Linked DNA regions of Homo sapiens: regions 1 and 2 are each linked to region 3. Evidence: fine-mapped expression QTL. A gene starts in region 3. Each other region holds a variant in brackets. All regions are shown on one strand. Distances are from middle to middle.

What was found. PIP is the estimated chance that this variant, and not a neighbour inherited with it, causes the effect. A credible set is the group of variants that fine-mapping cannot tell apart.
Region 1: its variant is the best candidate, but not a certain one, in a credible set for the expression of LRMDA in cerebral cortex (GTEx, PIP 0.70).
Region 2: its variant is the best candidate, but not a certain one, in a credible set for the expression of LRMDA in whole blood (INTERVAL, PIP 0.66).

Annotation. Positions count from the first base shown.
Region 1 is chr10:76,420,776-76,431,621 of GRCh38, reverse strand. All of the region lies in intron 6 of LRMDA (leucine rich melanocyte differentiation associated), which reads right to left. Among named protein-coding and RNA genes, the nearest start is that of KCNMA1-AS1, 460 kb to the left of the region's middle. The variant G/T (reference allele first, on the strand shown) is at 4,346.
Region 2 is chr10:75,448,699-75,459,544 of GRCh38, reverse strand. The region is part of intron 2 of LRMDA (leucine rich melanocyte differentiation associated); the gene reads right to left. Among named protein-coding and RNA genes, the nearest start is that of LRMDA, 22 kb to the right of the region's middle. RefSeq lists an enhancer at 8,093-8,978. The variant A/G (reference allele first, on the strand shown) is at 5,876.
Region 3 is chr10:75,425,450-75,436,295 of GRCh38, reverse strand. LRMDA (leucine rich melanocyte differentiation associated) reads right to left here and starts at 4,672. Exons shown (of 7, transcript NM_001305581.2): 1 at 4,542-4,672. The coding sequence starts at 4,571. It overlaps LOC107984293 (a long non-coding RNA gene), which reads left to right and starts at 4,686. Exons shown (of 2, transcript XR_001747703.2): 1 at 4,686-4,774; 2 at 5,986-10,197. RefSeq lists enhancers at 3,863-4,363, 4,364-4,864 and a silencer at 4,623-4,722.

The DNA of each region.
Region 1 (10,846 bases), 1.0 Mb before region 3:
GGCAGCACTGATTATACTCTTATTATTGGTTATTATGAGGATGTTACATTTATAACTGCCCTAGAGCAAGGCACCATTATTGTCACTTTTAAAAATGAGAAAACTGAGCTACATACAGGAGACTAGTGACTTTCTCAAGCCCCAGAATTTGCAAGTAGTAGAGAAGTGATTTGAACTTATGCAGTCTAACTCTGAAGTCTGTGCTTTTAACACTGTCGTCACCCAGGGAAGCAGGCTGATGTGAGGAGAGAACTGAGCTGTAGGAGGGCTCACACAAACTGTGCAGTCAGCAAAGTTGCTTTTCAACAGCAAAAAGCTCCTAGTTATGGGCCCGTTCGCATCCATGCTCCTCTCTGCATCAGCCCGCCTCAAACACGTAAATTCACTCCCCAAGCACCTAGTTATTATCTTGCTTGTTCTCTACTTAAAGCATTCAGAAAATATTTAGATCTTTTTTTTCCACCCAGATGTAAATAACTGATAATAGGTTAATCTGCTTCTTCCTCCCAGGGAGAGACATATTTTTCACCAGAAACCAAAGCCTTGAACTGTAGAGATAAAGCTCCACTTGTAAAATTTCAATGTCAGCATAGAATAAGGATTATGAATTCTTGAAATCATCAGAGTCTTCCTAGTGTCCCTGAAGTCTATTAGGTGGTTTTTAATTCATTAGGAAAAAACTATCCAGATGGAGAAATGGATATAATCTCTACTCCAGATACTATTCAATGGAAAAAATACTCAGAAAGCTTTGGCCTTGAATTTGTGGAGGCAGAGGAGGGGGTTGTGGGACAATTAGGAGGTTGAAATCACTCACTGACCCTATCTGAAACTCTATATTCTATACTGCCACCCTTGGACCACCCTTGGGTTAACATTTCCTCTGAACATTCTAGCTCCCTTAGGTTATTTATTTACTTACATTTGATATTTTCTTTTACAGAGCAGAGAAAATGGAAGGAAAACAATATTCCTATCCCTAAAAACACTCACTGTGGTTCCCTAGGAGGAAACAGTAGAGCTCCAGGAGACAAAAATCCAGCTCTCAATTCCCTCCTGCCTGCCTGGAGAAATCACTCAGCACCCGTAATGAGAGGATGCAGTGGCTAATTTTGTACCATAAATCACAAGGTTAATACTATGACTAAAAAGTGATACCATCAGCTCCTTTCCTTCAAGGCTGTTAGATCTTAGTCAATTACTTATGAACAAAGATTTAAAGACTTCAGAAGCCCCTCTGCCAACAAAAGATGCTTTTACTGTTAGCTTTCTTTCCCCTTGAAAAGATTCTTGAACTCCTCTGGAAGGGGCTCCAGTGTGTTCTCAGCATTTATAGGAAGAGGTTTGCAAGGGAGCAGCAATTAACAATGCCAGGCTAATAAAAATCCTGGAGCCTCAGTATCTTCTGAATGATACTGCCGACACTCCTAAGGTAGCCTAATACGAGAGGAGAAAACACACAGAGATGGGGGAAAATATACCTTGTTTCCGACATATTTCTCAAGCTGTTTAAATATGAAACAAAATCCTACCAGGCTACAAGTTTCCAGCTGTTATGATATCATAAGATAAATTTACAGCTAGAGAAACAGCATGTTTGCTTTTATAAAGTATGGAAATATAAATGTTCCAAGTGTTAAAACTGTCCAAACAAATTAATTCAAGTAAAAATAGTTGTCTCGGATCTGGTTCTCTCACATTTGCTTTCTTTTTATAGAGCTCACCAGCACACTTCTCTCAACGCAGAGAGGAGAGGAAGTGCAATTCCATCTCGGCAGGCGCCTTTTCTGCATTTGGAAACCCAAGGAGCCCTACAGCAGGGAAGCTGGGTGGCCCCTGCCCAGGCCCCCATGGCTGATCTATTAATTAAAATCTTAATTTAGCCTCTTTGCAACAGAAGAAAGACACTGTGAAAGGGGACTGAGGCTAAAAATCTTACGATGTGCTCCCATTTGGGGATGTTCATTGTAGCTACAATGAAAAAAGAGTTTCTTTCCTCAGTGACTTTGAAAAGAATAGAGTGGTGATTAACAGCAATTTTTTTTTTAATGAAACGCAACCCGTCATCCCTGTCATCTTCTGGCCATCCTCGCTTGTACGCGCCTCCCTGACAAGAGGAATAATAATCATCATACATCACTGCTCTCCACGTCCAATCACCTAAATCTTCCCTCGCTGCAGCCTCTGAGACTCAATTACTTTATTGACATGCAATCTTCATAAGGGGAGAAATATTGTGCATGTAAGGTCACTTGGTTATGAAGACATATTATCATATTATCTGCATGAGGGTTGCAGGGCTAAGACCTGACAGAGCTAATTATAATGGTACATGATAGAAAGCTCAGTACACATTATTCGCATGGCTGCACTAAAGGTGAGCTAAGTCCATGACATCATGAGTTTTTGAGAAAATAATGCAACATTGGCTTGGCGGCTGTAACTTTTTTTTTTTTGTTAATTCTCCAACATTTTTACTTTGGGGTTTTTCATGCATGATGAAATAACTAGTTAAGGGATTCCTCCTATCTTGAAAAAGGCAGTGGCATGCCAGTGTGGGGAATGTGTGTGTGTGTGTGTTTGTGTGTGTGTGTGTGTATAATTGGCAGGGTTATTTCCTCATCTAACAGCAAGGTTTCAGTCCACTTCTCAGCAACTGAAATGACAATGACTCAAAGGAGAAAGGCAAATGGATACAAATTGGTCAACATGATAACAGAGTAAAACTTCTTTACCTCACCCTCAATTAACCCCTTCTCAAATCCTTCCCCTTTCTTTCTCTTGCTTTGCCTGGCAGAGCCTTAAGTTGCTGGGATTTAGCAGTCCTGAATATGGTTTCTTTGTTCAGATATACAGTTATTTGAGCTTTTGCCAGCAGCCACGTGCTAGAAGTTCCATGCCTTGCTAAGATGCACAGCTAGTGAGTCATTCTCTTTTTTGCATCCTCAGCCGGTTTACCCTCCTCATTCACCCCCACTGTATCTCATAGGGAGAGGCCAAGATGCTGAGCTCCAGTGGCAATCTCACAAGAAAGGAGTATCCAAGAAAAAAGTCTAGGCCAAGTCTCTGTGTTTTCTGGTCTTGGCACAGTTAATGTGGGGCCTGGAAGGAAAACTGGATCGATGGATCTATGATGGGTCTATAGCTCATGAAGTTAAATGATGAAATTAACTTCATCATGAAGTTAAAAGATGAAATTAACTTCATCATGAAGTTAAAGCCATGTCAATCTCCACAGATGGGCCTGAGCCAGCATCAAGGATGAAGGTCTGGACACCTAGTCTACTTAACAGGGGTTTATGAGCTTTCAAAAACAAGTAAAGGAACCATTCAAAATATCACTACAATCCAAGACAGGCTGGCTCCTCCTAGATATGCTCTCTCTCTCTCAATGAAGAACTAATTCAATAAAGTAGAAGAAAGCACTAAAGACTTCTAAACTCCAGAAACTGATTTAGTCTTGTAGCATGAGTGTTTTGGCTCAGCCACAAGAAGTAGTGAGCATAATAAGAAATTAAGGTTGTCCAAAGCCTGGCAGAGACACAACAAAAAAAAAGAGAATTTTAGACCAATATCCCTGATGAACATTGATGCAAAAATCCTCAATAAAATACTGGCAAACCGAATCCAGGAGCACATCAAAAAGCGTATCCACCATGATCAACTGGGCTTCATCCCTGGGATGCAAGGCTGGTTCAACATATGCAAATCAATAGACATAATCCAGCATATAAACAGAACCAAAGACAAACACCACATGATTATCTCAATAGATGCAGAAAAGGCCTTTGACAAAATTCAACAGTCCTTCATACTAAAAACTCTCAATAAATTAGGTATTGATGGGACTTATCTCAAAATAATAAGAGCTATTTATGACAAACCCACAGCCAATATCATACTGAATGGGCAAAAACTGGAAGCATTCCCTTTGAAAACGGGCACAAGACAGGGATGCCCTCTCTCACCACTCCTATTCAACATAGTGTTGGAGGTTCTGGCCAGGGCAATCAGGCAGGAGAAGGAAATAAAGGGCATTCAATTAGGAAAAGAGGAAGTCTAATTGTCCCTGTTTGCAGATGACATCATTGTATATCTAGAAAACCCCATCGTCTCAGCCCAAAATCTCATTAAGCTGATAAGCAACTTCAGCAAAGTCTCAAGATACAAAATCAATGTGCAAAAATCACAAGCATTCTTATACACCAATAACAGACAAACAGAGAGCCAAATCATGAGTGAACTCCCATTCACAATTGCTTCAAAGAGAATAAAATACCTAGGAATCCAACTTACAAGGGATGTGAAGGACCTCTTCAAGGAGAACTACAAACCACTGCTCAAT[G/T]AAATAAAAGAGGATACAAACAAATGGAAGAATATTCCATGCTCATGGATAGGAAGAATAAAATTGTGAAAATGGCCATACTGCCCAAGGTAATTTATAAATTCAATGCCATCCCCATCAAGCTACCAATGACTTTCTTCACAGAATTGGAAAAAACTACTTTAAAGTTCATATGGAACCAAAAAAGAGTCCGCATCGCCAAGTCAATCCTAAGCCAAAAGAACAAAGCAGGAGGCATCAGGCTACCTGACTTCAAACTATACTACAAGGCTACAGTAACCAAAACAGCATGGTACTGGTACCAAAACAGAGACACAGACCAATGGAACAGAACACAGCCCTCAGAAATAATACCACACATCTACAACTCTCTGATCTTTGACAAACCTGACAAAAAACAAGAAATGGGGAAAGGATTCCCTATTTAACAAATGGTCCTGGGAAAACTGGCTAGCCATATGTAGAAAGCTGAAACTAGATCCCTTCCTTACACCTTATGCAAAAATTAATTCAAGATGGATTAAAGACTTAAATGTTAGACCTAAAACCATAAAAACCCTAGAAGAAAACCCAGGTAATACCATTCAGGACATAGGTATGGCCAAGGACTTCATGTCTAAAACACCAAAAGCAATGGCAACAAAAGCCAAAATTGACAAATGGGATCTAATTAAACTCAAGAGCTTCTGCACAGCAAAACAAACTACCATCAGAGTGAACAGGCAACCTACAGAATGGGAGAAAATTTTTGCAATCTACTCATCTGACAAAGGGCTAATATCCAGAATCTACAATGAACTCCAACAAATTTACAAGAAAAAAACAAACAACTCCATCAAAAAGTGGGTGAAGGATATGAACAGACACTTCTCAAAAGAAGACATTTATGCAGCCAACAGACACATGAAAAAATGCTCATCATCACTGGCCATCAGAGAAATGCAAATCAAAACCACAATGAGATATCATCTCACACCAGTTAGAATAGCGATCATTAAAAAGTCAGGAAACAACAGGTGCTGGAGAGGATGTGGAGAAATAGGAACACTTTAAACTGTTGATGGGACTGAAAACTAGTTCAACCATTGTGGAAGTCAGTGTGGTGATTCTGCAGGGATCTAGAACTAGAAATACCATTTGACCCAGCCATCCCATTACTGGCTATATACCCAAAGGAATATAAATCATGCTGCTATAAAGACACATGCACACGTATGTTTATTTGCGGCACTACTCACAATAGCAAAGACTTGGAACCAACCCAAATGTCCAACAATGATAGACTGGATTAAGAAAACGTGGCACATATACACCATGGAATACTATGCAGCCATAAAAATGATGAGTTCATGTCCTTTGTAGGGACATGGATGAAGCTGGAAACCATCATTCTCAGCAAAATATCACAAGGACAAAAAACCAAACACTGCATGTTCTCACTCATAGGTGGGAACTGAACAATGAGAACACTTGGACACAGGAAGGGGAACATCACACACCAGCGCCCGTTGTGGGGTGGAGGGAGGGGGAAGGGATAGCATTAGGAGATACACCTAATGTAAATGACAAGTTAATGGGTGCAGCACACCAACATGACACATGTATACATATGTAACAAACTTGAACATTGTGCACATGTACCCTAGAACTTAAAGTATAATAAAAAATATATATGAAAAATAAATAAATAAATAAAATAATAATTATTATTAGTAAGTTATAGCTTTTGCATGCCAAGTACTGCCTACAAATAACCTTTCTTCCTTATAATCCTTCAAGGTAGATTTTATCTCCATTTTAAAAGTTAAGAAATTGAGACGCAGAGGTTAAGCAACTTGGCCAAGTCCACACAATCAATAAATGACTGAGTTGGGATTTGAACTTGAGTCTGTCTCATGACAATGGTTAAAAAAGAAAAAAAAAGAAAAAAAATTAAGGTTGTCTAAATTCTCTCTTATTTAATACTCTAGGAACTCAAACATCTGAACTCCTTATACTAATGGCTCAAAAATAATGGTGACATTGGTAATAAAGCCACAAACAGATCTAGACCTTTTTTTCTGAGTTGGAAATTAAAGTGTACATAATGTGATATTGACATTAAGTAAATTTGATGGCGATCTGTTATAGTGGAAATGGTAACTCTTTAGACACCAAAATTTTGGATTGGCTATTTTGGATTGTTGAGTTCACTGCATTGCATCTCCACGTTCCAGCATCTCAAATACAACAACTGAGATGCAATGCAATGGGGAGGTTCACAAAATGTCCATTTCTAAAAGCTGAGATGCTAATGGGGAGAAAAGTGTATGGTCAATAGAAAGAGAGATGGGTTAAGGTTTAGAAGATTAAAACTCTACTCCTGACTCAACCACCCATCATAAACTTGCTGGCGCTTTTTAGTCAAGGCACAATCTCTCTGTACAGGTTGGAGAAATAACTTGGGAAAGACAGTAAGGTGCCGTGAAAAGACTACTGTTTTGCCTAATCAACAAACTGGGTTGAAAATCTCTCTACATCACTTACTGGCTTTATGATCCTGAGCACATTCTTTGCCTTCTGAGCTGCAATTGCCATTTTATTAAATGGGTAATGATATCACCCACTTTGAAGGATTAGCATATGAATTAAATAAGAAATGAAAGTGAAGATATTTTTGCAAACAAAATACACTTGATGAATGGCAGTTATTGTTACTGTTGTGGTCCTACCTGTTTTTGTTTTTGTTTTTGTTTTTTGAGATGGAGTCTTGCTCTGTGGCCCAGGCTGGAGTGCAGTGGCACGATCTTGGCTCACTGCAAGCTCAGCCTCCCAGGTTCACGCAATTCTCCTGCCTCAGCCTCCCAAGTAGCTGGGACTACAGGTGCCTGCCACCACGCCTGACTAATTTTTTTGTTTTTTTTGTATTTTTAGTAGAGACAGGGTTTCACCATATTTGTCAGGATGGTCTCAATCTCCTGACCTCGTGGTCCTACCTGTTTTAAACTGTTACGCAGGTCAATCATGTAAGTAAACATCAACTGTAAAGGGAAAATCCCAGTACTAAGTAAGGTGTGATTGTTATTCATGAGGGTCACTAGATCAGACTCTCAAATATGAGCACTTAGATCCTTAATGTCAAAAATCACTTTTATCAGACAATTGTTCAATATCCACAGCCATTGATATTGTCTTAGAAAACAGAAAGGAAAGTTTTGATGGCAGAAAGTGATGGAATGGAAGGGTAAGTCCCTTAAGACCAGAACACAACTCCATATAGAAGGTGAACCAGAACTTGGGATCACAAAGGAGCCCCTCTGGCCCTCTAGGAATCAGAGCATACTCTGTGATATTTTCCCTCGCAGCCTAGAAGTCAGGAGACCCCCAGGTCTAGTAACCATGGACACCTCCCCTCACCCCTTGGGGCCTCATATTCTGTATCTGAGAAGGTGATTCCTAGTCATTGGTTTTCTATAACAAACACCTCCTCGGTTGATTAGGGTCCACCGTTTAACAAAAATAGACACATGGGCAATGGGAAAACTCATTCTAGCTGAGTTAGGGCATCAGATTTTGATCGAAGTCAAAAGGGGACTAGAATTTATTACCAAACAGCAGCAATAGCAGCAGCTAAGTTTGAAACAGTGCCATTCCCTTTATAACAAAATTTATTAATTTTTAATTATTTTATTTCAAACTCTTGTGAAATCTGAAAAATCACTCAATTAATCAATAATCACATGAATGACTTCATACAACCCAGCCAACAACCTTATGAAAGGGTATGATTGCTATGCCCATTTTGTCAGAGAAGAAATCAAGGCTATGGTAAGTTAAATGAATTTATGTCTAGGTCAAACAACTAATAAGCAGCTTTATTTTATTTTATTTTATTACTATTTTTGAGACAGAGTCTCACTCTGTTGCCTAGGCTGGAGTGTAGAGGCACAATCATGGCTCACTGCAGCCTCGATCTCCTGGGCTGAAGCGATCCTCCCACCTCAGCCTCACAAGTAGCTGGGACTGAGGTGTGCACCATCACACTCGGCTAATTTTTACATTTTTTGTAGAGGCAGGGTTTTGCCATGTTACTCAGTCTGGCTTCAAACTCCTGGACTCAAGCGATCTGCCTGCGTCAGCCTCCCAAAGTGCTGGGATTACAGGCATGTGCCACTACGCCTGGCCTCAATTTTGTTTTTTAAATACACTCATCTTCGTGGAGTTTTTTGTCCTTGCTATAAAAGAGGACATTCACGTCTTTTGCATCTTGACCATTATTAGATAAAATAGGATATAACTTTCTCAAAGGGTTTTGTTGGTTTGCCCACTTGTGGGCAGGATTGAGTTGTACAGTTAGCTTCTTCAGTTCATTGCAGAGATTCAGGAATGCAAGTTCTTTTTTCATGAGGAAGTAAATTGCTATAAATCCATTGGAAAGAACAAAGACTTCAGATGGAGAGGGGAGATTCAAAGGCAAAGTTGGCTGTATGTGTAGGGGTAGATGCCCCAGGGGTATTACTGAGACCCAAGCAAACAACAGCAAACCTTTCACTTCTATTCTTCCAAAATAGTTATTTCCATCAAAGGCTGTAGGCCTTCAAAACAGCTCTATTAATAAAATGCAGTTATCCATGAGGAAGAGCTTCCCCTTAAGAATTAATACTTTCTTATCAAGATTTCTTTGACAACTGACCCTAGAATGAGACATGAAATAGGGGCCTGAGTAGAAAGAGGCTTAGCTTTTTATGTCTTATGATTAGACAGACTGAGGAGAGCATGGCGGGGCTGGGTTTCTGTCTTTGTAATGTGGATGATTTAGCCTCAAATTCAAGATCTGTAAAGTGTGAATAAAATAATTTGATGAGAGTGAGAGTGAAGTAGATAGACTAGCTGGCTGAAGACCAATGCTCCCACTGAGAAAAACTAAAAATGCTGAGCTAAATATGTGTAGAAAATCTTACGTCAGGGCCTCAGTGAGTTACTAAGGCAGTGACGACCTGAGAGGATAAGATCTTGGGGAGAGTGAGCGTGTGGAGACCTGAGTCCCACATTCAGTGCTACTGTCTCTCATGAAGCAATTTTCAATTCTCAACCTGCAATGAAGAGGCTGAGTAGCTGAACCAAACTTCACAGTCTTATAAGTCTTGGTGGACAAAATTAGACTGAAGATATGCCAAGGAGAAGGGGTCCAGGTAGACATCCCAGACTTTCAGCGAGGACCCTGAAAAACTACATCACAGGTGGAAGGGCAACTGGAAATAGATCTGTCCTCACCAAGTCTGCAGCCCAGTTTCCCATGGAATAAATCCCTAACTGGACTAAGGCAATCTTCCCCCACCAGACCTTCCTCCCAGAAACAAAATATGTCTTCTCTGAAGGAATATAACATTATTCAGAGCCTCAAGTTTTTTCCTATAATTTTTGTACTCAGTGTCAAGTATGAAATATCATGTGGCATACGAAGAGACAAAACCAAATGCCCAAAGATCCAAACCATCAATCAATAAGAGATAACAAGCTACAAAAGAAATGGATATTGGAGTTATTAGCCACGGACTGGAACATATCAATCACATATATTCTAAAGATGCAAAACAGCAAATGAAGGAATTTAGAAAAGAAATGACAACTATACAACAGAGTCAAATAAAAATTCAAGGCCGAAACATACGATAGCTTAAACTAATAATTTAATTGGTATATTTAACAAATGAGACATAATTGAGACTATTAGAAAAAGGGCGGCTGTGTCACAAGGAAGCTATATTAAATGTTAGTTAAGATGTCACTATATTAATTGTTAAATAGTCTATATATCACCATTAAAAGGAAGGTTTTCATAATGGATTTCAAAGTAATATACTGCTTACAAGAAACATATTTTAAATAAAAGCCTTCAGAGAATTTGAGAGTAGAGAAGTGAAAAGAAACTACACAAAGCAAATACTAGCCATAAGAGAAAGTGTATGTTTACAAATACCAAATAAACTAAACTTTAAGACAAGGACCATAACTAAAAATAAAGGGAAAATATTTCATAATGACAAAAGAGGTGGTTGTTCAGGAAGATGTAGAAATTCTAAATGTATAAGTTCAAAAACACATGAAACAAAAATCAACAGAACTATAGGGGACAAAAAGGAGAATTTCACAATCATAGTGGGAGGTTTTAGCATACTTCTCTCAGTAAGTAAAAGAAGCAGATAACAAAAAGGAATTAAATAAAAGATTTGAAAAATATAATTAACAATCTTCAAACTTGATCATACGCACATGTATATACACACACGCAAATGAAGAATACTGCACGTGAGGACTAAAGACATTGCACAACAGAGAACATTCACCCAAATTAAACATATTCCAGGCTATAAAGCAAGTATCAGGAAATTTGAAAAGGCAGAAATTGTGCCAAGTATATTCTCTGACCGGAATGAAATTACCTGTAAATTATTAACAAAAGATAACTAAGAAACACTTAAGTGCTGGGAAATTAAGCTACATACTTCTAAATATCTCAAC
Region 2 (10,846 bases), 23 kb before region 3:
AAAATAACTTTGAAAAACCACTGGATTAAACCAACCTAAGGTCCTTTGGAAGCGTGTGCTTTTGTGCAGCATAGCATAGGGGATCCCAGGAGAAGTTGAGCACTGTGATAAAGAGGTATGGTTGAGGCCTCCCTTTCATGATGCTATGGCACAATCATGGCTCACTGCAGAATTCAAAACTCCTGGGCTCAAGCAATCCTCCCACCTCAGCCTCCCAAGTAGCTGGGACTATAAGTGTGTGCCACCATGCCTGGCTAATTTTTAAATTTTTTGTAGGGACAAGATCTTACTATGTTCAGCCCAGGCAGGTCTCAAACTCTTGGCCTCAAGTGAGCCTCAGCCTCTCAAAGTACTGGAATTACAGGCATGAACTACTGCACCTAGCCAATCTGACTAGTTAACACTCTAAAAGCAGCGGGTTTTTTTTCCTAATATTAAATCAATTTCAAATTTCCACATTCCATCTTGCTGCGTACTGCCTGTGATTTTTACAATCATCTTCTGTAAAGAGGTTCTAACAAGTCCTTAAAAGAAAAAAAAAAAATCTAAAGCAGACCCTGAAGTTACAACTGAACCATTCAATTCAAGGTAGATCAGAAATTGCATAAAATGAAAACTTTTAGTAAAGACAAAAAAATCAGATGGGAGTTTTTTTTATGGTTGTAAAAATAGCCGCTTGCTCCTTGCAAGGTCTATGATCTTCCTTTTGATACTACATGAACCAGGAAGATAACTGTTCTCAAGCCCAAGGCAGGAAGAGTAAATTTAGTTCCTCCTGCTACCTGACGGAAAGCTTGTCCCATCAGGTACAGTCTGTGGAAGAGCAAATTGGGGAAGGGTGGGGTGCATCTATGTTGAAACTGCTGTAGAGGGTTAGGTGATAAAATTCTTCTCTGAGCTCAGAGGTACAACTAGATAAAAATCATGCCTCAAAATTGTTAAGTAAGATATGGAATTTTACTCTGACGTTTGGCTTTCTTAAAATCTTACTATAATGACATACCTTATTTAGTATTCTATCACTGCTAATAATCATCATGTTTATTTTGTTCTAATGAAGATTCTGCTTCCTCCCTCTTCCCTTTTAAAACATAATTGAATTGGAAAATGTTATACTCTCAGTTGTCCTTGCCCAAGGGAAACCTGGCCATTCAGACCCAAGTCCATAACTTTGCAATCTACAGTCTGGCAGGAAGTAGACCCCCCACAGAGCCCTAACTTTGCAAAACCAAACCTATAAACAACCAATGCCATAGGACCCCAAGCAAAATAATCTTAAAGATAAACCTGCTCAAAGTCAAAAGAATCAAAAATGAAATAAACTACTTTTGGGATATCTACTCTTTCAGTATATCTTCTACAGGAACAAAACTCTTTTACATTTAGTATTTCATTTGGTCTTCACAACTCCTTCTATCTCCCATTTGGAGAATGACAACAGAGATTAAATGACCTACTCAATATTTCACAGACGATTTGTGATGGAACAAAGACAAATACTCAATACTCAATACTCAGGCATCCTGTGTCTTAATGATCTCCTTGATTTTCTACTAGATCATCCTCCAGCCAGAAATACCCCAGCTTCTTGGTCTCCAACAATGACTCTGAGCTTCAAACTAGCAAGAGTTCAGTTTCTCAATTAAAAGTAAAAAGAAAAAATGGCAGTAATGCATTAGAGTTATGTAGTGTTAGTGATTTAAAGTGCATTTGCATTCAAATCACCTCTTTCCCCTGGAACCCAGAAACACTCTGAGGAGTGAGAAAAGAGGACAATATTCTTTGCCTGTAACTGATGGAAAATGCCGTCCAGATAAACGGCAGCAGCAAGAGGACTAAAACATATCTGAGATAGAACCAAAAACTGGTGGTCCATAAAGGAACAGGACAATAAAACTTAACCTAATTTTCTATAGACTTTCAAAACACTATTATTTAATGTACAGCCTCAGTGCCTACAGTTTTATCTCCTCCTGAAAAAATGATAAGGTGAAATATAAGTTTGGGAAGAAAATAAAACAACAGCAGCCTTAGTTGTCTCCCCCGCAACTCCTGTCACTCCAGGGAGAAGGTTTGATGGGAGAACCCATACCTCGAGTCCTTACTTGGCTGTCCTCCCTGAAAGACTCTGGCATGGCCAACTTCTACATCCCAGAATCACCACTACGCTGTAGGGGTTGTCCCCTTTTCATGAGCCTGGAAGACAATTTTCCTCTTCTCAGTCAACCTATACTAGTTTGCCAGATAAAGATCTTAGGACAACAATGAATTTGAATTAGGGGAAACATGCATCAAATAGAATACAGTATAGGAGCTAACAGTCGACTTTGTAGTCAGGCAAAGCTGCATTTAGATCTTGGTCCCCCCACTGACCAGCTGCATGCCCTTGGGAAAGCCTTTTAACCTCTGCACATTTTTGTTCTCTGTCTTTAAGCTGGAAAGAACACCTTGCTTGCCATAAAGATTCAAGAAGGTCATCAGGGAAAACTGATAGATGAATGGGAGTCACCAGTACCATTACCTCTTCTAGAATAAGCAATTACCATGTTTTTTTTAAAATCCATTTTACCGCCACGTGAGGTGACTCATGCCTATAATCCTGGCACTTTGGGAGGCCAAGGCAGGTGGATTGCCTGAGGTCAGGAATTCGAGACCGGCCTGGCCAAAATGGTGAAACCCTGACTCTCCTAAAAATACAAAAATTAGCTGGGAGTGGTGGCACGCACCTGTAATCCCAGCTACTCGGGAGGCTGAGCCAGGAGAATCACTTTAACCTGGGAGGCGGAGGTTGCAGTGAGCCAAGATTGTGCCACAGCACTTCAGCCTGGGCGAAAGAGCAAGCTCTTTTTCAAAAAACAAAATAAAATAAAATAAAATCCATTTTAGCAAAAGAAGAATTCCCAGGTTAGATTGTGTCTTCTGATAGAGGGGCACCTACCTAGTGTGTAACCCTGTCCTGGGCACTTCTGAAAGAGAAGCTGTTATCCCATCCTGGAAAAGCATACATTTCAATGGGAGACAGAGTTTCTGCAAAGGCCCTAAGGCACTCACAGAATCAATAATCTACCAATTCTCCCAGGGAAGAATGTACCCCTAAGTGCTGGCCTTGCAGAAACACTGTGGCATGAAAGAGTGAAAATAAATGCAATTTCTGAAAGATGAGGTTTCAAGTTTTGGTTCCTCCCCTTCTGAACGAGCACAGAGCCAGCCCACAGGGCCTTGCTGGGTGTGAAGAGGCACATGCTTGTGGCAGGAGTCTTGGAAGAACTGCATTAACCGTGACCCTTCTAACAGCGTAATTGCCGCGTATATGTGTCAGGGCCGAAACGCAGGCCCTGCTCAGCCTGGGAATGGGCTGCCCTCCACCCGCTGGAGGTGGCTTGTCTCCCCCGCAACTCCTGTCACTCCAGGGTGAAAATTTGATGGGAGAACCCATACCTTGAGTCCTTACTTGGCTGGCCTCTCTGAAAGACTCTGGCATGGCCAGCTTCTATGTCCCAGAATCACCACTACGCTACACAGCAAAAGGGTTTATGTCTTTGGGTGTGGGAAGAAACTTACCCTGTTCTCCAGTTTCTCTTGTGGATTCCAACCCACCCCTGAGGGCATACAGATCAGGTTCTCACCATTCCTACTCAGGAAAATCCTGGCCCCAAAGCCCTGATGTTGTACAGGCTCCGAAGTCTTAAGGCAGCATGGAAAATCCTGCCCTCCCTCCAGGAGGTGGCTCAGGTCTCAGTTTCTTCATGAAGTTTCTTTTGAAGATGCTCTCCCTTCTGACAACTTCTTGGGCATGAGAACCTCTATTATACTCCTGGCAATTAATTGGACTGTGCTATCCTGTGTGTACATAAGGTATGCCCCTGTCTAGGAGCCAACCCAGGTCTCACCTGGGTCATTTTACCTGCTTTGCTGGGCTGGCTGGGAACCCTCTCTCCATGTATAGCTCCCCAATGCCACTCACTAGCTCAAAGACAATAAGCTTCCCAGGCAGTAGACAGAGTCGCTATGTTCCCCAGTAGGAGAGAACTGAAAGGTTCTCAAAGTCCACAGGGAGAATCTGACCATGGCCCCATATTGTTCTCTAATAATTTCACCTGTATTAGCCTTATCTCCACATTGAGCATGTGAGCTTTCAAATGGGGAAACATCACAGGTGTAAGGTCCACGTGCTGGGAACCCAACTCGGGGCCTTTGCAGGAACTCTGTCTCTCGATACCTGAAGGTATACAACAATACCTATGTATCTACAATAAACAGGAGGAGACCTGCAAGGGACAGTGGTCAAGTTCTCAGCCTTTGAGTATATCTGAAGACAGTTCTGGGGAAATCACGCTATTCTGGGCAGTTCCCACTCTCATTTAGTCAAAGGATTAGTCTATTGCCATGCCTGTACAAGCCATGACAAGACCCTAAAGAAAGACCACCTAGCTCAGGTGCCTCCAAGGAGGGGTCCCGTTGTACCAGGCAGCTAGAAAGACCACTGTAACCCTACTGGCATCCTCCAAAACATAAGTGGCCCAGGCCTGACTTCTACCCACCAGTTAGAGGAAGAAGATAAGAAAAGCCTTGGTGTGTATGGTTAAATTTACCCCTACTGTCATTCTTCTGTGCTTCACGACACGAGTTGGAACAAATACAGTGCTCCTCAGAGGCAGAGCACTTGACGAAAGACTTTCAGGAGCCACTGCCAGGCTCCATTTTTCTATACCCCAGGTAAGGCTGATTTTTTTCTTGCCAAAGCCCAGCCTGAAAGAATTGAATTCAGAGTACTGATTTGCTATATCCAATTACAACTGGAAGAATGGTTAGCTCTCTGTGATATTGGTCCACCTCAGGCATCTGGGAAGAATTCACGTGAGCCAACCAGGACAGACTCGTGATCCAACTGCCAGCACAGGTGAAGATGGCTGCCGCCCAGGCTCCTGGCTCACAGCACTTTCGGAGGAAGCACTTAGAAGGGATAGGGAATACATTCTGAAAAATAAGTCACTGGAACAAAATTAACACCCCACCAGGCAATTCCAGTGCACCCTCCCCACCTTAAAGACTGTGTTGGGACTCGGAAAACGATACCCCAGAGTATGGTGCTTTGGCATGCTGAGTACTTGGAACTAAAGGAGACGGGAAGGTCTCAGAGGCTGCCTCGGATGCAAGGCCTCTCTGACCGTCTCCTGCCCGTTTTACTACCCCAAAGTGAGAGTTGCAGAAGCCAGAATTCCTCCTCCCCAAGGTGGGTCTGTAGAAAGTAGAACCCCTCTCCCCCAAAACAAACCATAAAACCTAAAAATATTACTCAAACCTTCCCCCACCTTTCTGTGTAGGAGCTGGCTACAAAGAAATTCTCTGACCTACCTTGTCTGATAGTTGGTCATAAGACCCTCATTCCAGAAGCGTCCTGCCCTATAGCCAGGAGGAAGGATGCTACACAGAGAAGCCAAGAAGAATCCAGGCAGGCAGTCCTTGCTGGGTTCCCTGCCCCCTCCGTCTGTTACCATTAGATCATACCCTTTTGTCCAATGACATTTCTACATGGCTGTCCATTCTTCATCCAACCTTAGCATAGAAACAGATCATATTCCCTGGGTTTTGGGGCCTTCAGTTCACAAGGTTCCTGTGTCACATAAAATTTTGATTAAATAAATTTGCTATGCTTTTCTCTTGCTAACCTGTCTTTTGTTACACAGGTGTCAGCCATGGCCCCTATGATGGGTGAGGAAAGGGATCACAACTTTGTACCCCTACATATGACATGCGAGCGAGTGGGCAATGCCCAACCATCTATCTCCTCAGAAGTCAGCAAAAGCTCTTAACACACCCCATCCCCTCTCACCTTCTGCTCCACCAACCCCCAAAATGCATTTTAATACATTCA[A/G]TCAACAGAGCTGAAGCAGAACAAATGTTAAAAGAAAAAAACATATTAGGGTTTTTGAGGAACAAAGCACCTCAAAACTCACATATTTAAACCTCTAGAGGGTTGTATGTCTAAGTGAAATAGAAAAGTCTTCGGGAAAAAAATGGCACCTTTGCAAACAGCACTGTATTTGAAAAGAATACATCTAAATGATCCCATGCTTTCATTTCTTTAGCAGTACGGGGACAAACTAAAGCTAGCTTCAATTAGCACAACTTTAATTTTAAAGGAATAAAAATGAAAAGAAGCTTCCTGTGCCATCAACCTATGTTTTTCCCCACTCATGTTTGCTATGAAATTCAAAAGAAAAGACAGTGTAGGAAACCAGCAGCTAGGTAGAGACTCCAGGCAGAGACAAAACTACTATAAATGCCACATTTGGACAAAGGTCAACCGCCAGAGCTCTTCTTCACACATTTTCTCTCTCTGTCTCTGAAGGCATTCACAGAAGGATGCCCTGTTGGAGGTATACAATAATATCTGAAATTTATCTTTTTTGGGTAAACAAAGCTGCATATATGACTCATCTGATTTCTCTTTGACCCATATTAAACTAAATCAGGCTGAAGTTCCAGGTAACATTACCCCTCCAGCCACCCCAAATATACAAGTCTTTTCCTCTCAAAAGATCCCCACATTTACTAAAATAATTTGAGACTCCATCGGAAAGACCATTATGCTTGTAAACTTTAAATAATTTAAATGCTTTCTTGTATATAAATATTTCATATCAGAAATTGATTTCCAAATCAAGTGACCACACTAAGCAGTGTCCAAGTGCATCCCAATGAAATAAAATACAGGCAGCTTTTTTAATGCAGTTGGAAAACTGAATTCCACATGAGGTCATGAAGGATTATATGCACAACACAGAATTAAAATTGCTGCCTCAAACTCCCTTCAAGTCAGGCTAGAAACCTATCCAGTGAAATCTCCAGGAAGAAGAGCTAAACAAATCTTTGCTTTGCTAAACTGCTGAATTTTCAGAGGAATAACCTAGGGTGGTGGTAAGGTTGACAATGGATACTGGATACATTAAAAAAAAAAAAAAAAAAGTCATATCCTGAAATCACTGAGTTTTAACCTTGGGTAAGACAAGGGTAAGGCTTTAAAACCCGATCCAAAAAAGGCTCTGGCCACTAGCCCTTATCTTGTGGCAAGAAGCAAAGGGGAAAAAAAAATCCTGTTCTAAAATTTGCAAGAAAAAACAAGGCTATGATGTGACCCCAAGTCTCAAAACATGCAGTTTCTCCCTTAGCGGCGTGAACAGCAATCACGTTGAAAAGGGTGAACAAAGAACAGAGACGCGCGATAAACACCACTAACCAGGGCTCCAGGCAGCACAGAATAAACCAGCTCAAAATAAATGGGCATCGAGACGCCAACAAAAACTTTCCACGCAGCCTCAGGAGTGTGACAGCCCAGGACCCCAGGCAAATCCTGAAGTGTAGTGAAGGAGGAAGTGAGCAGAGGGTCTGCACTGGAGCCCCTCCCTTGACCTCTCCAACAACGCTGGCCACTTCTTTCCTCCGTCCCTTCCTTGGGTACTGAAAGAAAAAGGCATAACAAGACCAAGTGGGACTGAACCAAGGAAAACATGCCCACTTCTTACACCAAGCCAACGGCACAGAATTGAGCAAATTAGCATGCACATATAACCCCCAAATGTACTATCCAGCACAGCACCACCTCACCGATGGAGACTTAGAACACACACATACACACACACCAAAAAAATGCTTTTTTTTTTTTTTTACCAGAGCAATAGCTGAGAAGAAAAAATTATAACTCCTCAAGACGTAGCGAAAGCTAAATCCTGCCTCGCCTTAGCTGCAGCATTCAGCTTGATGTAGCTAAATTAACAAAATGTTCCCTTGGCATTTAAAGTCTCTCTTTTCTTTTTTTCCCCTTAGAAGCAGGGTAGGGGATGAAGTGTAGTAAGTCAAAAGCAACTTCAAAACAAAATCAGTTATTTGTAAACAATCCTTGTGGGGAATTTTTCTCCCCTCCACTTCCCCTACCCCAAGAAAAACAGCCCTGCCAGTTGTAATAGAAAGCCAAGTAAAGATAAATCAATTAGCTTGCTAATTTCTCCCCTCTCATTTATTTAGCTCTGCACTGTATTTGTCGTAATTGACTACAATTATGTTAATTACTAACTCCAGTATAATTACTATATTTATTGTCATTGAGCACGCGATGTACCCACAGCAAAGCTGGCATTTGTCGGGCATCAAGAAAGCAAACTGTCGAGAGGTGATTCTCGGCAAACTGGCGGATGTGGCTTCAGCAAATGAAAGGGCAAAAGAGATTTCATGCAATGTTAGTTTGAAAGCACCGGTTCATTAAGGATATTAATTTTCTGATAACTACACATTTAAGCATGACACACTCACGCAGTATCTACAGGATTTCGCAATTATTAATGCGTGACAGTTTCAAATGCTAAGTGAATCAATTAAACAGCAGCATTCACAATTTGAGAAGAGATAACTGCTTCATAACTACCTAAGACTACAATTTTCACATGACAAAAAAGAGCCATTGAGGCGCCTTCAAAACCTGACAGGTCAAGAAAGAAGTTTGAAACAAAAGCACCTTACAACCATCATCTCTCCTCTTTACTTGTCAGATCAACTTTGCTAGTGTCTCCCCAGAAACGGCATCACATGCCAGCTGCCACAAGGTGATTTTTCATGTCTTGTCAAAGAAATCTTTTATTCTATTTGCTCTGCATTAACATGTTACATTTATTGATCAAGGGCCTGTTCGGCAGCCACAGCAGGGCACTGAGCTCTCCATGCCTACGGGGCTTTGATGTCCCGGTGACATTCGAGCCCGAATAATGCACATACTAAATGGATTTAATGCAGAAATGTGTTTGGGCCTGACAGTTACATTAATAACAGCCCCTCACACTGATAAATATGCAATTGCTACTATTAAGAGTTACCCAATTATGGGGAAAATATTTCTCTACCTTATAAATAAATCCATCAAGGAAAAAGAAAGTTTTAACAATGGTGCATTTTCTTAAAACACTTCTCCAGCTGCAGGAAACGGGCCGTGTGGGGGTTAACACCGCCTCTCCTGCCCTCCCTCCAATTGTGTTTAATAAGTCTTGCTTTATCTCAAGAATGGTTTGGTGATTTTTTTTTTCTTTTAAACCTCTTTTGTTGGTCTTCCCTGTTCTACCCGTCTCTTATTTCTTCAGAACCAGAGAAAAAGCAGACACCCAAGAGACTGAAAAATTGGGTTCTGTATAAACTCAGCAAGGAGCTTAGGGGAGGTGGTGCAGAGGTGGGGGCAAGCAGCTGATCTCCATAATGATGGGTCTGGAGGAGGAGCTTTAAAAAAACACTCTACGCGAAACCTGAACATGTGTGTGTCTCTCTCTCATTTAAAACCCTAAGTGACCTTGTGCTAGGACAGTGATGGGGGTGGGGGTGTGAAAGGGAAGAGAAAGCAGCTGGGATGGAAGAAACCTTTTATTAGAAAAGTCTCGGCCAGGGAGAATTTGTAGTTATTATATCCCTGCAATTAAACACAGACACCCAGCAAAAAGCATAATCGCTCCCCTTTCATCATCAAGGAGCAGGGAACAGCTGAAATCACCAACACTACAGTCCCTGAGGAGAGGAAAGAGGCCTTTCAGACGGTGGGTGTGTGCAGGCAAGTGAGTTCATGTGCAAATACACACACACCCCCACGCACCTCTTCTTTTCCCTTCAGACTCAAAATTCAAGCATGCAGTTGTCCATCTCAAGGTCCCCCAGTCCCAAGGCTGGCACCACAGTCAGCAGTTGTTGAGCCATTTGTCCCACGGCTGCGATCTCTGATCTGAACCACATCTCACAGAGCAGGGGAGAGGAAGAAAGAAGAAGATAAGTTCTCTGGGAAACTCCCACCTCCCAGGCCTCATGAGGTCCTGCCTCGCCAAACTTTCCAAATCAGAAAGGTTTTAGAGAAATGGGAGAGAGCAGGAAATGCTATATACGTATGACTTCAGGGCCTCTAGGGTCTTGAACTCAGAGCAACAAAATCTACTCAGACCCTGGTATAGTGACTTCCACAGGCTTTAATGATTCAAAAAAAAAAAAAGAAGGAAACTTCCCTCCCAATCCCCACCCAAAAGTAAATACAGGCTTGGCAGTAGCTGTCTTCTCCCACACACAGAAAAAAGATTTACACCATGAAAAGCAGTTTAGGATAACTGTAAAGCTGAAGTCAGACCACTGGGGCCATTTATCCCAGCTCTCCCATTTAACCATCAGGGTGGTCTCAGGCAATTACTCTGCTTCTCTGGGCCTCAGTTGCTTCATCTGTGAAATGTGGATAAGAACAGCTCCATTCTCAAAATGTTGTTGGGAGTAAATGAGATAACATATGTAAGTGTTCTGCCCAGCCATGGCATGTAGTGTATACTTGATAATGTTGGCTGAAAATAAACACGACTTCTTTTTTTTTTTTTTTTTTTTTGAGATGGAGTCTCACTCTGTCGCCCAGGCTGGAGTGCAGTGGCACGATCTTGGCTCACTGCAACTTCCGCCTCCTGGGTTCAAATGATTCTCCTGCCTCAGCCTCCCGAGTAGCTTGGATTACAGGCGCATGCCACCACACCTGGCTAATTTTTGTATTTTTAGTAGAGATGGGGTTTTGCCATGTTGGCCAGGCTGGTCTTGAACTTCTGACCTCAAGTGATCTGCCCACCTCAGTATCCCAAAGTGCTGGGATTATAGGCGTGAGCCACTGTACCCAGCCTAAACATGACTTCTGATGTCATCTGTCTGACTCTCTGTCCCTGGACTCCTTTGGAGAGTAGAGCCAGTCTTCTCTCTTGGTATTATTGGCAAGTCTGCTTTATCATGAAGCTCATCAAGAGAACCATTCTGCCAGCCATCTCCAACAGGGCCCCAGAGGTCTTTCTCAACA
Region 3 (10,846 bases):
TCCTCTTAGAATGGCCAAGGACTAAATCTAATAGACACCCAGTTTGTCAAAACTTCTGATGTTTTATACAAGGAAACTAAGACTCCAGAGCCCTGCCCAGCACAATACAGCTTCTTAGTGATAGAGCCCAGATCAAGTCCTATGCCATAAATAAGGACTTCCAACTTGGGGGCCATGGAGTGCTTACAAATCCATGTGTGGGTGTGAGATTTCTCTCTCTCTTTTTTTTTTTTTTTTTTAAAGAGATGGGGTTTCACTGTGTTGCTCAGGCTGATCTCAAACTCTGAACTCAAACAATCCCCTCGCCTCAGCCTCCTAAAATAGCTGGAATTGCAGATACAAGCCACCATACCAGGCAGACATGAGTTTTCTTGATCAGCAAATGCCAGTGGTGCATCTATCATCATGTTTTGGCTTCAAAATGAGTCTTCTGAGCTGAAAGGGCAAGAACTTCTCCCACGGTGCTACACTGAGGACCCAAGAAGAGTGTTAGAGCCTGGGAAAAGAGAGGGATATTTGCTTCCCTTTTTCTTCTGTAGGAATTCCATTCAAAGGAAACAGGAGCACCAAGGAGAGCTATCATAAAGCATTTGGATCACTCACAACATCTGATGAGACTGTCAGCAGCCTGTTTCAGTACATGGTCTTAACTATACAACATCCCAGGAAGACTAAGAAAAATACAAGTTGTTCTCACTGTTCTCAAATGTGAAGACCAAGTCTCAAAAGTTTAGCATGAGAACCAACTCGATAAGTAATCTGCATGCTTAGATAACTCCTGTGGTAAAGTAGAAGCTTTTAGAGATGTGAGTTAAGCCGACCAGGCTGAAGGGCTCAAATCAGCTGGAAAAGGCTTAAAAGCAGCAAGCAGCCACTGCCAGACATTGCAAGCAATGCTTGAAACTAGAAAAAAGACTTAAGAAGTGCTTCTGAGGGAAGACATTACCTCTCAGGATGTCAGGAAGCTTCTTAGAGCACAGGACCACCTAATGTAAGATTCAAGGCCAGAAGAGCCAAACCAAAAATAGTTTGCTTCTTCAGCAAAAGGGAGACGGGATACAGAGATTAATAGATCTTAAATGGCACAGAAGCAAGAGCATATCCAGAACACCATTGCATTTAGTCAATTACCTTGACTTAGACTGCATTGAGGAACAAAGATTCAAACTTATAATTTCTCTATTTTCTATAATTTGTACCCTAAGACCTCCACCCTGTGTGGAATAACAGGAAGGGACACCATTACCAGGCAAATGAAAATATAACAAGTTAAAGACCCCTACGGAGAAGAAACTAGAAAGGGAAAGGAGAGTGTCTGGAAGGGGTCCCCACCTATGTACACACCCAATCCCTCCAAGCCGAAGCTGCAGAAAATAACCAAACTGCAGAAGACTGCAGGTTTCACTTTGCGTTGGGACTCTCTGGCTCCCAGGGCATTTCTGGAGATGATGAGTTTGTCAACAGTCAGATGTTGAGGAGATTATTTTTTGATGCCTACCCCTAGCCAGGGGTGGGAGATCCTCGATTTTAAATTTGTAATACTGAGCTGGGCACAGTGGTGCACACCTGTATTCCCAGCTACTCAGGAGGCTGAGGCAGGAAGACTGCCTGAGCTCAGGAGTTCAAGGCTGCAGTGAGCTATGATTGCGCTACTGCATGTCAGCCTGGGCAACAGAGCAAGACCTTATCATTCATTCATAAATAAATAAGTGTATGTGTGGTACTGGAAGCTGTCGGAGTAGAAACAACCATAGGTACAAATCTGATTCCCGGTACTGCCACTGCTAGCTGTGTTGTCGCGGATGAGTCACCATCTTCGAGTCTGTTTCCTCTTCTGCAACTGGGCTAACACTAACTCCTCCAAAGGTGTTAAGAATAATGTAAAAACCAACATTTATTAAATGCCTATCATGTGCTTGTTATCTATTCAATCCTCATGAAACAGCCCCATGCATATTATCGTCCCTATTGTACTTACAGGAATGCGATGAGCTAACATATTAAAAGTGCACAACACTGTCCTTGGCACCCAGTGGCCACTCTGTTAAACAGCTGTTGAATCAGACCACTCTCCCCACAGAAGGGATTCATTATTCCAATATCTCTTGGGCGCAAGATTTCAGTGCCCAAATTCCAAGTTTGTATTTGTGTCTACGATCGTATTACGTTGTCATAAGCTAGAGGAAAGAGAAATGACTTAATGCTGAACATAAATGATGCATTCAAGCCAAGAGAAGCCAAATGAAGTCAGACCCATGGCAAATGAAAAGCCTTTTGCAGAGAAAAGCAATAGGAAGACTGCAACATCCCCAGGCATGTGGCATCATAGGCCTGTGGAGCTCCTAAAAACCAGCTCCACAGCAGTCAACCCATAGTGGCATTAAAAGCAGTGACCTAACTTCAAGCCACGCAGCATTCATCTCATTAAATTGTTTAATTGCATAGGGTTTTTTTTTCTTTGCACTTAAACCATCCCTTTATTTGGGATTTATAGGTCTCTGGATATGGGAAAGTTGTCTCTGGCTTCATGTTTTTATATTTGAGTAACATTGTAATAAAAACTATATTCACACTATGGGCTCATGGGAAGTTTTGCGGGTTTTATTTTCCTCCCTTTAAGAAGGATCTACTAAAGTCTGACAAGTACTGTTCCATGCTACCCACATCCAAGGTGCTACCTCTTAAAGCGGCCGCCATTAGAAATCGCTGGGAGCAGAATGTAGAAAAAACAAACAAACAAACAAACAAACAAAAAAACCACCTCCGGGGCCAGACACTCAAATCCACTAACCTGGGCAGTTTAGGAAATGGGGCACTAAGACTCCAGGGGCATTTTCCCAGCCTACCTTCTTAGCTCCTCCCCAGGCAACTCGGTCTAATAAAACAGTCCCCAAGGGCCTAAAATGCCTCACCCACACTTCCATGAATGCCCTTGGGCTGTTTGGAGTAGGCTAAGAACAGGGGCTGCAGGAAAAATCGAATCTAGGAAACGGAGGAAGAGCAAAGGGAAAGGAAGCACAGGAAAGTGCTCAGCCCCATGAACTTGTAGCAAGGTACACCGGGAGAACACCAAATCTGAAACGCAGAGAGACCTAGGGTCTGGGGGGCAGGGAACCCTCCTTCTTAGGTAGATACTCCAAGAGAAGGAAAAGACCCTCTTGTCCAGCCCCTCCCTCCAGGCAGTAAATTAACTCCCAGAAAAAAAAAGCCCCTTTCCCCGATGGCTGAACAAGACCCGTCATTTTTAGCCTCTCCGCAGGCTGTTAACTCACTTCTGAACTCTGGTCTTTCTCCAGCTCTCTCCTCCCAGGCTGTGGGTCAAGGGACAGAGCCAGCATTCCTGAGCAACAAAACTGTTAAATGGGGGGTGCACAGAGACAAAGGAAAGGCTAATTTCCAACAACACCTGGCATGGTGCCTGGCATACAGTAGGCACTCAATAAACATGTGTACCTGATGAAACGACAGGACTCTGGAAAAAAAGAAAACAGGCAGCGGCTAGTTTAATGGGCTGCACAGTTGGCCCTCACTGCATCTGTAGGAGCTGTAAAAACCCCTAGAATCTCCTCTAAGGAGGAATCATTCCCTTCAGCCCAAAGTAATCTCAAAATCCAATTGTGCCTGACACTACCTGCCTTAGGCAATCCAAGAGGAGAGCTTCAAAAACTCAGAACTATTTCTCCAGGGTGTGCAGGGAAAGGTGGGAAGTAAGAGGGCTCTGGCTTCATCAGAGCAGAGAAGAGGTTAAAGACAGAGAACTGGCTTTTCCAGCAGGTAAGAAAGACACCTGGTCCCAGAGTGGCTGGGTTCATCCCTCCAACAATGAACACCTGAGGCTTCACTACAGAGCTCAAAGCATGTGAGACTGGGTGTCTGGCACCCAGGATTGAAACTGGCGTGTTGCCATTCATCACAGACTCCTGTTCAAGAAATCGAGTGTGGAAAGAGAACTGGAGGTCGGTGGCCTTCCATCAGCCTTTGGCTATGGCGTAGCCCATTCAGCGCAGGGCCCACCAGCACCCTCATCTCCAGGGATGTGCTGGGACTTTGGGTACCCTAGACACTTTTGCCTTCATAAACCCCTTCCTCCATTTACAAATAAGTAAATTTGTATATTACAACTGCATTGGTATAAAGATGACTATATCAATGTGATTTATCAAAATGGATTCTTTGACCAAAAGTTTTTAAAATTCAGATTATGAAATTGGAACATTTTCTGTGGGCCCCCAAAAGCAGCGGGGGCCGTCAGCACTGTGTCCGCTGGGCCTGCTCAGTGAGGCGCTAAGGGCAGAAGGAAGTGGGGAGAACGGGAGACCTTGCGGGTGTTCTTCCCGCACATCAAGGGGGTGTGCCAGGCCCGAAACGAGGTCTGTCCTAGCCCCACTAGGGCGAGCCTGAGCACCTGAAGCTCACCCCCTGCAGACGCAGCCCCCTGAGGCGGGGACAGGGGTGTCTAGGCCCTGGGGAGCCTCTGTGCCCCGCTGTCCCTCCCCACGCGGACTGCGCCCCGGGCGGAGGCGGGGCTGGCCGGGACTTACTTGAGTTCCACGCACCACGAGCCCGGCCATGGCGGCCAGGACGCTGCGGGCGCGCGGGACGGAGCGCGGGGGCGCGGCGGCAGCAGCGGGGAGCGCGGCAGGGGAGCGCGGCGGGCGCACAGTTCCGCACTGGGCAGTCAGCTGACCCGGCGGAAGCCGGAGGCGCGGGCTAGCCTCGGGGACCTCAGCTCCGCCGCTCGCCGCCGCCGCCCCTCGGCCCGGTCTCCGCGCAGGTGAGCCCTGGCCGCCCGCTGCAACAGGTGGCCCGCAGCGCCCCGCGCCCCGACGGCGGCCTGACCCCGACTGCCCGCGCCCCTCCCTCCCCCGGATGTCCCAATGCCCAAAACTCCATGCCCACAGCTTTATCGCGTTTGTCTGGGCCACGCCTGAGGTGGGGGTATTCCTATCAGGGGCGCCCTTTCTGAGCCGTTAGCCGGGCTGTAGCCAGCCGGGCCTTTCCTGCATTTCGCAAGCTGGGTTACATAATGGACCTCAACTGCAGCGAGGAGGGGCCTCTTGGCTGAACGCCCCTCCTCATCAAAGCTGGGGAGAGGGAAAGTTAGAAGGTTGAAGGACTCCTGGTGCGGCCCAGTTTCCATTTGTAGGAGGGGAGGGGGATTGGGGGGGTTGAATTTCCCTATAAATAAAACGCTGGCTTGGTGAAGACCACCCCACCCTTTCCCTGTGGCCTCTAAGAGTTGACAATAATAAACCCTGGGGAAGGATAATTGGCTGGTGACCCCAAATTTCAGGCTTCTCTTCTCCTGCTCCTCAGAGGGCAAGAGATTTGTGAGGCTTGAAGTTATCAGTGGGGTTATTCGCTGTTCCCCACCCACCCCATCCCCACCTGGAAGAGCTGGCCACGGGCCTCCTGTCTGGATGAAAGTAGGCCCAGTGGGCAGGTAACTCCCTAAACCCATGCCTGTTTTTCTCTGAAATTCTCTGGAAGGATCCAGATTTTCTCCTTGCCTATTCTTGCCTCCAAGTCCAGGATGCACAGAGCTACCAGATATCAACTGGTTGTCATCTTCCACTCTTGCTGCAGCTAAGAGCCAGCCCAGCCTTAACTGGCATCGTCTCTCAGACAGCCCCGGTCCTAACACATTGTTAGGTGGGCCCTTGTCAGCATTTTGATGAGCAGTGTTGATCTCGGAGGGTTGACCTTCCTGCCCCTCTCTCAGCTGGGAGGAGCAGGCTCAGAAGAGTAGAGCAGTAAGAATGCAGTCTTGACTGTGTTTACTTTGGGGGATTCCAGGAAATGCTGCAACAAAAGGTCCTGCAGGCCAAAAAAGAAAGCTTACCCTCCAGAGATAAGGGGATCAAAGGGAACCTTCCCAGGCCTGTTGCCCCAAGGACCAGCTCCCCCGCCTTCTCCCTCCTTCTCTGCTGGACGCGCCCTCTCTGGTCCATTGTGCACTTTTGTCTGCTTTTCCTGCCTGAAAAGGAGGAAGTGAGCCCGGACCCAGCCAGCACTCTGCCCTCCGCAGCTGCCTTTCAGCTCAGCTTTCCTAGAAGGGCTTTGACAGATGGAAGAGGACTTGTGGAAACAGGCCCAAGCTGACTCAAAGATGAGATTGGAGAACGGCTCTCCCTTCCCCCACCAGAAGGGGGTTACTGAAGGTCATCTCATCCATCCCCCTGCCTCCATACACAGCTGGGTCATCTGAGCATAGGCTGTTCTGCAGACACTACCAATGTCACCAAAGTGGGCTGGCATCTTTCCCCCTTTCCACACCCTCTCACTACTGTTGCCTCCTCCACATAGCCCCAGGGCAACCATTTTAAAAGCCCAATTAGATCCTACCTAAAATCTTTCAATGGCTCCTAATCAAGTAATAATTAATACAGTCCAGAATCTTTAGTATGTCCCTGAAGATCTCTTATAATCCCATCAATTCTTACCTCTTCAGCCACCTGTCCCAGCTCTCCCGTCCTCTGGCTTCACAGAAGCTGTTAGTTTCAGCTGGAAATGCTTCCCCACCTACTGCTGTCTCTGCTTGGTGAACACATCAAGAAGGCCAGTTGATGGTGTGGGGAAGGATCATGTGCAGAAATCACAAAAATTAAGATCAGGATAGCTCTGTTGGAGGGGGGCTTTAGTGTTGGAACTGTAAACTGATAACAATAGGGAGCTATTGAAAGTTCTTGAGCAAAGTAGTTGTCTTAGTCTACTAGGACTGCTGTAACAAAATGCCATAAACTGGGTGCTTATAAACAATAGAAATTTATTTTTCACAGTTCTGGAGGCTGGGAAGCTGAAGATCATGGCACCCACGATTTGGTGTGTGGTGAGGGCCCATTTTCTGGTTCCCAGACAACGGCCTTCTTCCTGTGTCCTCAAATGGTAGGAGGGACAAGCTAGCTCCTGTGGGCCTCATTTGTAACAGCACTAATCCCATTCCTGAGGGCTCCACGCCAATGATCTAATCACCCCCCACAAGGCTCCACCTAAGACCTTGGAGGTTATGATTTCAACATATGAATTTGGGAGGGACACAAATGTTCAGACCGTAGCAGAAGTAATTTCCTGAATGTTGTTGGGGGAGGACACCAGCAGAAACAAACTGGATTCACCTGTCCTTACTCCTCAGCTTTTGGAGTTAGTCTTCAGAATAGAAGAACAAGGAGAAGGAGGAGGGGAAAGGAGAATAGAAGGAACAGAAGGAGGAAGGGGGGAAGGGAGAAAGGTAAAAGGAAAAGAAAAAGAATCTGTGTCCCTGGACCAAGGAAGATTGGAAGCCGGGAGGGGGAACATCCTTCTACCTCCTTATCACTGTTGCCAACAAAAAGGAAGATTAAACAGAAATAGTAAAGTTCCTCCATAATGTAGCCCTCCCTCGGGGAGGGGAGAGAGCAAAAAACAAAACAAAACAAAAAAAACACTGAGATAAGACTGACCTAGGAGTTAGACAAATAATTCCTCCGGAATACAAAGACTTTACAAGGGTGAACATAGCAGACGAGTCCTGTAGGGGCTTCGTCCTGAACACAGCTCTTTCTGCCCCAGCCCCAGGAGCACTGAGGTAAAATATGGGCTCATGCAGTCACGGTCCTCTCACCCCACTCCATGACTCATTGAAAGTGAGCTGCTAGCTTCCTATCCTGCCCATCTTACTTCACAGCCGCTGTGCCCCAGCTTCTGGCCTTGTGCTAGGCACTAGGGACATCCCTGACTAATACTGTTCAGGAGAGACGCTCAGACTTGTGCACAGACATTCACAGCACTGTGTCAGCAAGAAGTGCTGTCATTGTGATCCTGTTTTCTGAACCCCAAATTGAAGCACGTAGCCCAGCTTGTACAAGTGCACTCAGGAGGACCACAAAACAGAAAGTTCAAATCCAACCTATGCTGACCACCCTGAGCCTGTGAATTCTGGAGCTCTGACGGGCACATAGAGAGCAACAAGGTTCAACTCATACAACTGGACATTCTCTTATCGCCCTTGATGAAGAGGGCAATATTTTATTCCTATTGTCATCATTGTTATTATTATTCTGCTTTGGCAGAAGAGGCCCTTTGCCTTAGAGTCCTTCCTCCATCACATTCCTGGGGACAAAAAGGAAGATCCTGTTTATTTCCAATCAAGGGAGTTGATTCTGGGGTCGGCCAGAACCAGTGAAACAGGAACTGATTCCTTAAATCTTCCAACTGTGCATTAGCAGCTGAGAGAAGAACAGGGCCAGTTAACCAAGTTTTGTTAGCATTCCTAACTATCCTTAGCTGTATTTCTCTTCAGCCTGGCCTCATTTCTTTCAGGCCCAGCCCCCGGGCAGGTTAAGATGGTTGCTGTAATTAATCATGCCGTGGGCCCTAATTCAGACTCACCACATTCAAATTTCAATTTAAAAAAAAAAAGGCGGGGTGTCTACTTAAGAAATGCTCCGCTTATGAAATGCTCTTTGTTGCCGAAGCAGCCCCCTTTCAGCCTAAAGGAGAAAGTCTAGGAAGTGCAGGAAAGAAGAAAGGTTTCCAGGGCCCTCTTCAAAGTACTTGCACATATGTGAGGGGACTGAGGATGATCTGTGCTCCAAAGCCCCTCCAGTATTTCCCAATCAGAACAAACTGAATTTTTAAAAATATATATTAAATACCATCATAATATCTAGGATGAGTGTTCATTCCACAAATGTTAATTTATTATTCTCAGTGCCTCTAGTTTTCCTTCTCTTTTTTTTTATTTTTATTTTTTTGAGACAGGGTCCCAGGCTGGAGGGTAGTGGCGCAATCATAGCTCACCACAGCCTCGACCCCAGGGCTCAGGTGATCCTCCTGCCTCACCCTCCCAAGTAGCTGGGACTACAGGCACTCACCACCACACCTGGCTAATTTTTTTGTATTTTTTGTAGAGATGGGATTTTGTCATGTTGGCCAGGCTGGTCTTGAATTCCTGGGGTCAAGCGACCTACCCACCTCAGCCTCCCAAAGTACTGGGGTTATGGGCATGAGTCACCGCACATGGCTGTTTTCCTTCTCTTTAGGTCTTAAAAGGTTTTGTCATTATTTCTCTGTGAAAATGCAAACAATAGGACTGAGCATGGTGGCTCATACCTGTAATCTAGCACTGAGACCAGCCTGGGCAACATAGTAAGATTCTCTTGCTAGAAAAATAAAAATAAAGTAAAATGCAAACATTAGTTGGCTGTGGAGAATGGAGTGGGTTTGAGGAAGGTGGGAGTGGGAAAGGAGCTTCTGCTTTTCACTCCATTTCTTCTGTGGTTTTGGTAACATGCGTATACTACTTTTATAATTAAAAACAAAAAAGGAGGAGATTGGCACAGAATAGAGAATTTACCATGAAAACTACTATCTGCTAATCTCTTAGTACTATTTTAACAAATCCTGAAAACAGCAATGAGAAACAAATCTTATTTCCCATTTTACCTGGAACTCGCCGCAACTCCAAGTCCTTGGCTGGGCATGGGAGGCAAGTCATCGCTGACTTGGAGGAGGGGGGCTCACGTTGGACCTTCAAGAGGGAAAGAGAACCCACCCAACTGTCTATTTCCAGTGGGAGCACCTTTCCAGAATCCCAGCTTGACTTGGAGAGGTTCTGCCACTTGGAAGTTGGGGAAGGGTTCCTCCCACCCTCAATTAAAATACATAGAACTTGGTAGTCAGTTCATTAAGGTGGTCCCCTAGTATCTGTATTTTTCTCAAGTACTCCCAAAATAATTTGGATTTATGATCATCCAAAACTCACTGCTTTAGAAATCATCTACTCCAATTACTGATGAGGGAAACTGAGGCTTAAAGGGCAGAAGGGACTTGCCCAAGGTCACCCAGCAAATAAGCAGGTGACCCCAGGCCAGAAAAGAAAACAGGACTCCTCCTATGTCCCACTAAAAACAGGATAAGGAGGCTGAGAGGAGCACCTGAAAGATGCCATTTCACATCTAATCACTTCTTGTCACGTTGCAACCATTTTCCTCATATGGAGCCTCACGCTGATAGATCAGAAATAACATTTTGAAAGTTATGTCTGCAAGGAAATGGCTATTAATGTTCTTCCTCTCCTTTTAGAGCATCAAGGAATACATATTAATTTTCTCTCTACTTACATTGCCTATTTGCAAATTGTATTCACTACTCAGTGCTCCAATTTGTCCCACCCCTGAAGAGATTATGATGAATAAATGTGTTCCTGGAAATAAAAAATTTGTCCCTGAGATTTATTTTTATAATTATTTACAGGGATTATTTTAGAATATATGGGGGGGCAATAATGTGCACATAAGGGTTCCGGTGTGACTTACCAGTATTAATTCTGAGTCTCTTCCCACTTCTCCGAAAGAAGCCCAGGCTCTCTTCGCAGCTGTGAACCCGGGGCAAAGCAAGTGTCAAGTGCACCTGGCACCACCAGTGCCAGATTCTGAGGGCCAGATGAAGGTTGATACTGCTGGAGCATTGTGGTGGGCGGTGCCCTGGCCTAGGAGAGCTGGGTTCAGGAGCTAGCTTTGCTACTAACTCACTGGGTGCTCATAGATTAGATTAATCCTTCCACTCCTAAGTTCCTCAGTTTCCTCAAATGCAAACTAACTGATCTAAGGAGCTATTGATTACTTAGATAAAAATGCACATCTCCCCAAATCTATTGTATATTTCAAAATACTAGGAGAGAATAATTTGAATGTTCCTAGCAAAAAGACAAATATTTAAAGTTATATATAGCTGAACTACATTGAGGCTGGGCACAGTGGCTTACACCTGTAATCACAGCACTTTGGGAAGCTGAGGTGGGAGGATCAGTTGAGCTCAGGAATTTGAGACAAGCCTGGGCAAGATGGTGAGATCCCCATCTCTACAA